Regions from separate parts of the Homo sapiens genome. Here region 2 is linked to region 1. The links come from fine-mapping of genetic effects on gene expression. A gene starts in region 1. The other region holds a variant in brackets. All regions are shown on one strand. Distances are between the middles of the regions.

Region 1 (4,399 bases):
ATATAATGTCCTTTTAAGTTTATGGAAGGGGTGAGTATACTTAACTCTAAAAACATATTTTTTTTCAATTTAAGACACAATATCCTAGTGTTAATTTATATTATGATTTTTTAAATTAAAATGTATCTAACTCAAGCTCAAAAGTCATACTGAAAAGACCACTGAAGATGTTATCAAATCATTTCATCACAAAAATTTATCATTCTCTCCATCCTACAGCATTTAATATGGTCTAAACACAATAGCTTTGGAAAATCAATTCTGAATACAATAACTCTGATGTAATTGCAAATTCAAAGGAAAATGTAAGTGCATTCGAAGTTGAGGATGTCTGTACATACTTTTAAAACTTTTTTTTTTTCTAACAGGTATAGACTCCCATCAAGGCACACTGACCCTGAAAAATGGCTGAGCTAAAATAAAAGCTGTGTTTATAACGCTGAAACGAAATACTGAGTTCTAAATCTGGTGATTTATCTTTTGACAGCTACAAAGTGCGACACATCAACATTACATTGCCAGATTTAATTTCTCATCTTCCATTTCATTGATAATTGTAAGGTTTAAAATCCATAACAATTTATATGAAGTTCTAGTTGGTCAATACTGTGATCCAGTCCTCATACTGAAACAATGTTAACTTACTTAAAATCCACCACAAAATATTCAATTATTTGACAGATGTTTAACAGAAAGAATAAGGGATCATTAATGATTCCATTTAAAAAATATTTCATCACGAGTGCTACTTTTACTTCAGATTCATGCAAATATGGTGCTTAAAACTGGATCATATTTCAATCCAAAAACCAACGCCCGAAGTATACGGATAATTTCCAAGAACAGAAAAACCATAAATAAGATATAAACTCCCCCAAATTCAAAATAAATTACATAACTTACTCTGTTTTCCTTCTTTGTTTGTCCTCAAAGATGTCATTGAGATTGATTGCCACCTGCCCTAAAAATTTATCCAGACCCACCAGGGACCTGTGCATAACTATAAGGAAAAGAATGTATTTCTCTGGACTTCCCTGAATTAGCAATCCAGGTAGCTCGAAAGAGGCCTCCTCCTTCCAAACTGGCTCAAGGGTTTTCTCAGCTACAGAGGTGGAGTACTTTTCCTTGCCCAGCTGAATTATAGTGTATGTGTCATTGGTACCACTTTTGCCTTTTGGCTTCAGATCTTTGGCTTGGAGCACTGTGACCTGCACGTGGGTTGGAAACCACTTTTGGGCTTGCTCGGACAGCATCATCCTGTCCTGTTTCTCTGCCCCCGAGTTCCCTAGCACAGGCAGTGCCCCTCCCGGAGGGAGAGCCTAATTCCTTAATCACTGCATCCTAAGGACACTTAACGGAAACAGGCAGGCTCAGGGCTCCCCGACTTCCCTATGGCTGATGTCAAAACGCCTCGCGGGGGCAGCCCAGGGGCACGGCCGCTCCGGGGGTCCCCTTTCGTCTGGAGAAACACAGAGGCCCACCATCACCTGGCCGCGCCGTGCAGGCCTCTGCGCGGACCCCCGCCCCTGTCTCCACCTTCCCCAGGCCTGCGGGGCACGTGAGGCCTGGCCACACGGACCCGGGCGGAGGGCTGCGGGGGTGAAGGGAGCCCCCGCCCCAATTCTGCACCCCTGGCCTCCCGCCTGCCTCCTTGCGGCCGAGCAGCCTCCGCTGCCTCCGCGCCTCCCGCCCGCCCGGCGTTCGTCCGCAGGCTCGGCCCGGCTCCTCCTCCCGACCCCGGTAATACGAACCGCCGGCGGCTAACGCGGCCTCGCTCCCTCTCGCAAACCTCTCCCTCCTCCTCCTCCCCCTCGCCTCAGCTCCTCCTCTCGGGCGGGAGCGGGTAGCCAGGGGTGGAGTGGGGGAGGGCGGGGAACGCGGCCGCCCCGGCGCCGGCGGGACGTGGGGCGGGCAGCGGGCTGCAGGGCTGCGGGCGCTTGGTTCGGCCTGGCCCGGCCGGCGGCTCCTAACACCGGGCGGGCGGCTGCGGCGGCACTTCCGGGTTGGCCTTCTCCATGTTGGTCTCGGGAACGTGAAGGGGCGGGGCCTCGAGGTCAGGGGTCAGCACCTCCCTGGTTGCCGTGGCGACTGGAGGCGCGCGACGCGGGCGCAATGGCGGGGACCCGGGGCTTGATGCTGCTTGGGCCTGGCCCAGTGGCGGGTCCTAGGGACGTGGGTACCTGCAGAGGCCGGCAGGTGAGCCCTGGGGAGGGCTGGGGACCGCTCGTGAGAGGAGGTCATCAAAGACCCGGAGACGCCCCTAACTAGGGCGTCTTTGAGGGCAGGGGATCTGTGTTCGCTGTGTCCTGGATGCCCAGTGCCTGGCAGGAGCAGGTCCATAAATGGTGTTGGAACGAATCAGGCCTCTTCACTGACCGAAAGGAAACTTTTCTCCAATCTCCTATCCACCCTTCTCTTTTTGAAAAGTCCGTAAATTGACTGAAAATGACATCCCCCACCCAGACGAAGGGCGATAGGGAAGCAAATAGTTTCCACAGGGAGTAGAGATGTAGGGAGGCACTGGGCTGGCATCAGAAGACCTGGTTCCGGCCGCGCCTCTGCCGCTATCAGTGTGTGTGACCTTGGCCGAGTCATTTCACCTCCATGAGCCTCAGTGTTTTCACGAGTAAAAAAGCCAGTTCTACCTCATGTCTAAGACTCCATCACGACTCTATGGGCTCGACGTCAAAAGGACCCCCGTGGGGACTCACACTGTGGTGGACTGTGCAAATCATGTGGAGACCATGCCCCAAACACGGGTTTCGAGTTTCAGGGGATAATACATGTGCCTTTCCTAGCACAATGCGGCACATAAATCTCCTTTTGCCCCTCTATTTCTCAATTGGAAGAGACGCTTATGTACCACCCCATTGCTGTTAATTCTGTTCGTGTCTTACCTTCCCAAGGAAATTCTAAGTTTTGGGACTGCCTTGTCTATCATGCAGTCCCTTCATAGTGGCTAGCATGCAGCAGACAATTTACTGAATTACTTAATGCCTTTTTTCCCTTTACAAGACTAATTTTGAGAGTAAAACAATATGATACATGTAAATGCACGTTTTTTTAACTTAAATGGCCATAAACATGTAAAGTATCGTGTTTATTATTTTCAAGCAAGGTTTAAAACTTCTCATTCAAGGCAGAATTTTTCATCCCTGGGAGACAGTGTATGAAAAGGCCATGTGTGGAAAACAGAACAAAATCATCGTACTGCGAATATAGCATCTGGATCCCAGAGTGCACAGTTGTCAACTTTAAAGAAAAATATTCTTAGGGATTTTTAAACAGTACGTTGGAACAGTCAATGGTGGAATTTCACCAGGATCTCTAAGGAGAAATAATTTGACACCTGAAACTTACAAAAACCAAATAAACATCATGAAATCAAATTTAATTAAGTTTAGAGTTCTTATACATTTTAAAAGTCTTCATGTCTCTATTAAAGGTTGTAATTAAACAATAGAAAATTATAATAGTGGATGTGTATTTCTGAAGAGCTTAAATTGGTAAGCTTTATTAATGATTATAAACTTGTTTACAAATATAATTTCACTCATCTCTGAAATATAGCCATCTCTAGGGTAGAAGTTGGCAGCAGTAGTTCACAGCAACTCAATAACATACTCCAACACAACTCAGAGAATACTCTAAAGGCAAGAGCTGAACAATTGGAATTACTAACCTCTCTTTCTGTAGCACCTAAATTTCTTTTGAGTTTTCCCAACAGCTGGCTAGAGCCAAAATTGTTTAGTTTTACTGGTGAAATCAGAAATTATGACTTAAAATTTTTTAAGCCAGAATAAGAAAATAACATATTTTTGCCCCCGGGGAAAGCAAATAAACAAACAAACCAAATGAGCTAAATAGAATCTGGGATTGCATTATAATAAGGAAATGACTTCCTATAGAATGTTTTCCTTTTTTGATTATATTAAGAGAATAAAAATATGACAGTGGAGTCAAAGATATGGTTGGCTTATAGTGAAAAATAATGACAATTACATAAGATCTGGGATCAAAGTGCTTCTCCCAAAATGTTTATTGTTTTACAGTTTTAAAAATTCTTTTGACTAATTCTAAGATATACATGGACAACAATTTAAAAAGGAAAGGATTGCGTGTGTAAGGACAACATACCAGAATTGAAGAGAGTCACTTTTTAAAAAATTATCCTATGACTAATGATACATCCGGAAATGTATGGTACAATTCCAAAATCAAAGTCTTGGGAAAATAATATATTTTAGAAGGAAAATGCTGAACATTCTAATTTTAAACTGTTAACAATGCCTACAGCAATGAATAAGAATGCTTTGACCAGAAAGTTAAAATAGTCAATATTTATTCCCCATGAGTAGAGGATTTCACAGATGAAAATATTTACTACATGTTGCCCCTT
Region 2 (4,399 bases), 59 kb before region 1:
AGGGATCCTGTCTCATTTATTTTGCAGGCATATGTGTGAGCAACTACCTTATCTGTGAAACAGAAACTTGGGGTTGTGATCTCCTCTTCTCTGAATGGCTGTCTTTACGATTATTTCTTCTCTTAATTTTCTTAAAACATATATGACTATTTAAACTGCAAATTATAATATTGTGAGGTTTATAACATATGTAAATGAAAAACATGACAATTGCAGCAAAAAGGATGGCAGTAAGGTAGTAAATGAATCAAAATAGTTGCAAGATTTCCATAATTTTTATGAAATTGTACAATATTAACTGTAAGTAGACTGTGCAAAGTAAAAAATGGATTTTGTAATCCCTAGAGCAATCACTAAGAATAAAAAATAAAAGTAAATAAACTGTGTATAGTGATATCTAAAAATTCAAAAGACAAATTATTACAATAATTCCAAAGAAGGCAGAAGCAGGGAAACAGAAGTAAAAAAGAGAGGTGACAATTAGAAAACAAATAAAATGGTAGGCCTAATTCTAACCATACTGATAATTACATTAAACTTTAATGCATTAAACTTCCACTTAAAGGCAGGTATTATCAAAGCAGATTAAAAAAGAGAAGACCCAACTATGTTCTATGTGCTTCACTTATGTTAACTCATTTAATTCTCATCACAATCCTGTAAGGCCATCCCATTATCAATCTCACTGTATAGATGAAAAAATGGGGGCTCTGAAACGGGAAGTAACTTGCCCAAGCTTACCCAGCTAGCGAGGGGCAGAGATGGTTTTGAACCCAAGGAATGGGGCTCCAGAAACTACTAGTCTGCCTCACAAGAAAATTAAGAAAGAAAAACAAGTAAATCCGGAAAAAAGAGAGAAAGGAAAATAGAAAGAAGGAAGGAAGGGTTAAGTCTGGGAAAAACAAAACATTAGTACAAAAAGGTCATTGTAATCCTAGTATTCTACTTGGCTCAGTAGATGATAAGCTACATTTGTAGAATAATAGTACAAAAAGGTAACTGTAATCCTGGTATTCTACTTGGCTCAGTAGATGATGAGCTACATTTGTAGAATAATACTAATTAAAACATTAACAGTGAATTTAATCTACGATTGTGGTATCCCTATATTTTGAGAAAGGGAGAGAGGGAGGAGAATGGAAGTATAAGATAAAATTGACTTCATCCTGCACAATAGGGAATTAATGGCAAATGTCTAAAAGTGATGATCCAACAGTGTGCACTATAATTGTGAGAAATGGAGATAAATATCAGAAGAAATGAATGAAGCTTCTGGAGAGCTAAAACAGGGTTGGGCAGTGGGTAAGGAGGGCACGGGACTATTATTTTTAATTTTTTGCCTTACAGTGATTTGAAACATTTAAAATTATATGCATGCATTCCTTTGATAAAAATGCTTTTGAGAAAAAGAAAAAAAAAAAGACTTGCATCAGCAATCAAAGGTATGTTGAATAGCCCAGTTCAATTTGCTGAGAATAAAACAAAGGTGGTAATTTTGCTATTAAATGCTGTCTTAGGCAGGGTTCTACAGAGAAACAGAACTAATCAGATATACATATAGAGAAAAAGAGATTTATTATAGGCTCACATGATTACAAAGGCTAAGAAGTCTCAGGATCTGAGGTTGGCAAGCTGGATCTCAGGAGACCTATCAGTGTAGTTCCAGATTGAGTTTGAAGGCTTGAGAACCAGGAGAGCAGACAGTGTAAGTTCCAGTCTGAAGGCAGGAGATGATCAATGCTCCAGCTCAAGGACCAGGCAGGCAAAGTTCCTCTTACTCAGCTTTTTGTTCTGTTCAGGTCTGTAATCAATTGGCTAAGGCCCACTCACATAAGGAAGGACAACCTGCTTTCCACAGAATACTGATTCAAATGTTATCTTGGCCCCAGAAACACCCTCACAGATACAGTCAGAATAATGTTTGACCAAATATGCAGACACCCACTGACTCAGTCAAGTTGACACATAAAATTAACCATGACACATACTATTAAGAGTTTACATATATTTTATGTGCAAATTCCCCTATTCAAAGTACTGTACAGATTTCCAATATTCCTAATTTCATCTTCATTTTCACTAAAATTGCTCATTGTCATAGTTATTTTTTGAAATGTTTTTAAATAATATAAAATTATTTTAAAATTAAAAATTACTTTAAA[A/G]TTATTTTAAAATTAAATAATAAAATAAAACAATATAAATAAAAGAGAACACTATAGATGGTTACAGCCCTGTTGCTACCCTCCCCAGCCCTGCTCTCCTGTCTTTCTCAAGAGGCTATGCATCCATCCAGACTTTATACATTCATGAAAAAATACCTTGTATTGTTTTGTATATTCTTTTCAATAGTCAAAAATACTACCATATTACACGTCATTCTGCAGCATGCTTTTGCAATCAGTGACACATTTTTGAGATCTCTCTAATTGATTATTGCTCTCGAGAAAAAAGCCTGCTGTCAGGGAATTCTCCCAAATTTTCATATCTTGTTCGCATTTCCCCTCTCAACCCCTCCTGTTTTCATTATTCCTCCTTCTTTTCTCTATTTCCATACTTTGAGTGATCTCATCTGGTCCCACATCTTTACCATTCATGTCAGTGTTGCCCAACTGTTTATCCTCTAACCTTGACCTCTCCCTAGAACTCCACACTCACATAAGTGCTGTCTGTTTAATTTCACCACCTGGATATGTAATGGGCATCTGAAACATGTCGTGGTGGAAAGGGGGCTCTGAATTTGCCCCACCCTGCTCCTGTCTTGCCTCTCCCATTTCAGCAAAAGGCCCAATCCTTGCCTCAACCACTTGATCTGGTAGAACCAAATTTCTGAGAGGATGAGAGATAGCGAGGGCAGGTGACCACTGTATCAACCAGTATCCGATTAGGGGCCAGGCAGGAAATGGAACAGGAGAATCATCTGGTTCAGCTCACCGTGCAAAGGAAAGTGTGAGCCTATCCTCCTCCTTTTTCAGGGCAGAAAGGATAAGGACTATGGTGACCAGCAGACTTCAGGCTCTTTAGGGATGGGGCAAGCCGCCAAGCACAAATGGGGATTGCTGTCTTCAGCCCAAGCTTGTTGGATCTTCTTAGAGTAGCTGAAGACCTGCATTTTAAGTATTGGCAACTAATTCAAGCCACTTTTATGTACTGCATAGACCAAACAAAACATATCTGAGGGCCTGATTTTGCCCATGTGTCACTATCTTGCAACACCTTCTGTGTGTGTGTGTGTGTGTGTGTGTGTGTGTGTGTGTATTATACATTTGGGGGAGGGACAGCACTTGAAATGTAGAGATTTGAATCCATCCTACCACATTCATAGTACACTATTAGCATCGTTCTCTGCATGGCGTCCCTTTTTTGTACTTTTTAATTACATTTTATTTATTTCCTTCTATCATCATTTCTACTCCCATCATGTGCCTGCCCTGCCATATGCAACCATTCCAGTTGACTGGGATCTTTTGTTTGTATGTGTCCTTGTAAAATGCATACTGTCATTTCGTATGCAAATATTGTTAATTTACATAAACTGTGCTATTCTAGAAATCTCATTCAACTTTTTCCCTTTTTTTTGTGGCTAGGACTTTTTTCAAGTCATTTTATCTGGAGGGGTGTGTGTGTGTGTGTGTGTATGTGTACAGGGTATGCCTGGACTGTGTTTTACCTGCCCACTCTCCCCAGTTGCTTCCAGGTCCTACTATGAAAAACTTGTACCAGTCCTTTAGGAACCTGTCTAAGCATCTGTCTGGGGTATACCTCGAAATACAGGATTGCTGGGCCATAAGGTGCGTACTGTGCACAGCGCTGCCTTCCCATCTCACCAGCAGTGTAGGAAGGCGCCTATATTCCTATATCCCCACCAACACTTGGCATCATCCAGCTTTCTTCTTCTTTCCTGCCCAATGGAAAGTGATATTTCATTGCTCTAAGAATCCAAGGTGTACTTCCAGAATTAACATACTTTTTCTTGAGAACCTCAGAAGACTTCAAAAACTCTTTGTGTTCATCTTCAGACCTGAAAGGTAGGTGATTCTCTCCATTTTATTGGTGACTCATACACACCAAAAGGCAAGGCCCAAATCTTTCTTCCCAGTGGGTACTTTGAGACCTTACCTGTTAAATTCTATGACTTCCAACTCCTGGCAAGGAGGAAGGGTTGAGGACTGCCTTTCTTCTTGCTATATTCCTTCATGAATTCACCTCAGTTTTCTAATCATTGGAATATACTTCTTGAATGGAAATAAAAGACATGCTTGGTAGTATGGTGTTTTGTCAAGTCCCAAAATGAAAGTCACATAAACAGAAATCCCAAGCATAGTCTGTAGAGTGAATCTTCTCAAATGACTTTTTTAAAGAAAGAAAAAGTCACAGTCCTAATGTGAGCTGAAATACATTC

Direction of the effects. Positions count from the first base shown, and alleles are read on the strand shown. Sizes are in standard deviations (SD) of each study's normalised expression.
For the expression in monocytes of the gene that starts at base 2,034 in region 1, A is the high allele of the variant in region 2 and G is the other (large effect, 1.7 SD a copy in Fairfax 2014).

The links. PIP is the estimated chance that this variant, and not a neighbour inherited with it, causes the effect.
Region 2: its variant is the best candidate, but not a certain one, in a credible set for the expression of RAB11FIP2 in monocytes (Fairfax 2014, PIP 0.58).

Annotation. Positions count from the first base shown.
Region 1 is chr10:118,044,908-118,049,306 of GRCh38, forward strand. RAB11FIP2 (RAB11 family interacting protein 2) reads right to left here and starts at 2,034. Exons shown (of 5, transcript NM_014904.3): 1 at 904-2,034. The coding sequence starts at 1,256. It overlaps CASC2 (cancer susceptibility 2), which reads left to right and starts at 1,914. Exons shown (of 4, transcript NR_026940.1): 1 at 1,914-2,196. RefSeq lists a silencer at 1,472-1,961.
Region 2 is chr10:117,985,545-117,989,943 of GRCh38, forward strand. No RefSeq gene overlaps it. Among named protein-coding and RNA genes, the nearest start is that of CASC2, 59 kb to the right of the region's middle. The variant A/G (reference allele first, on the strand shown) is at 2,163.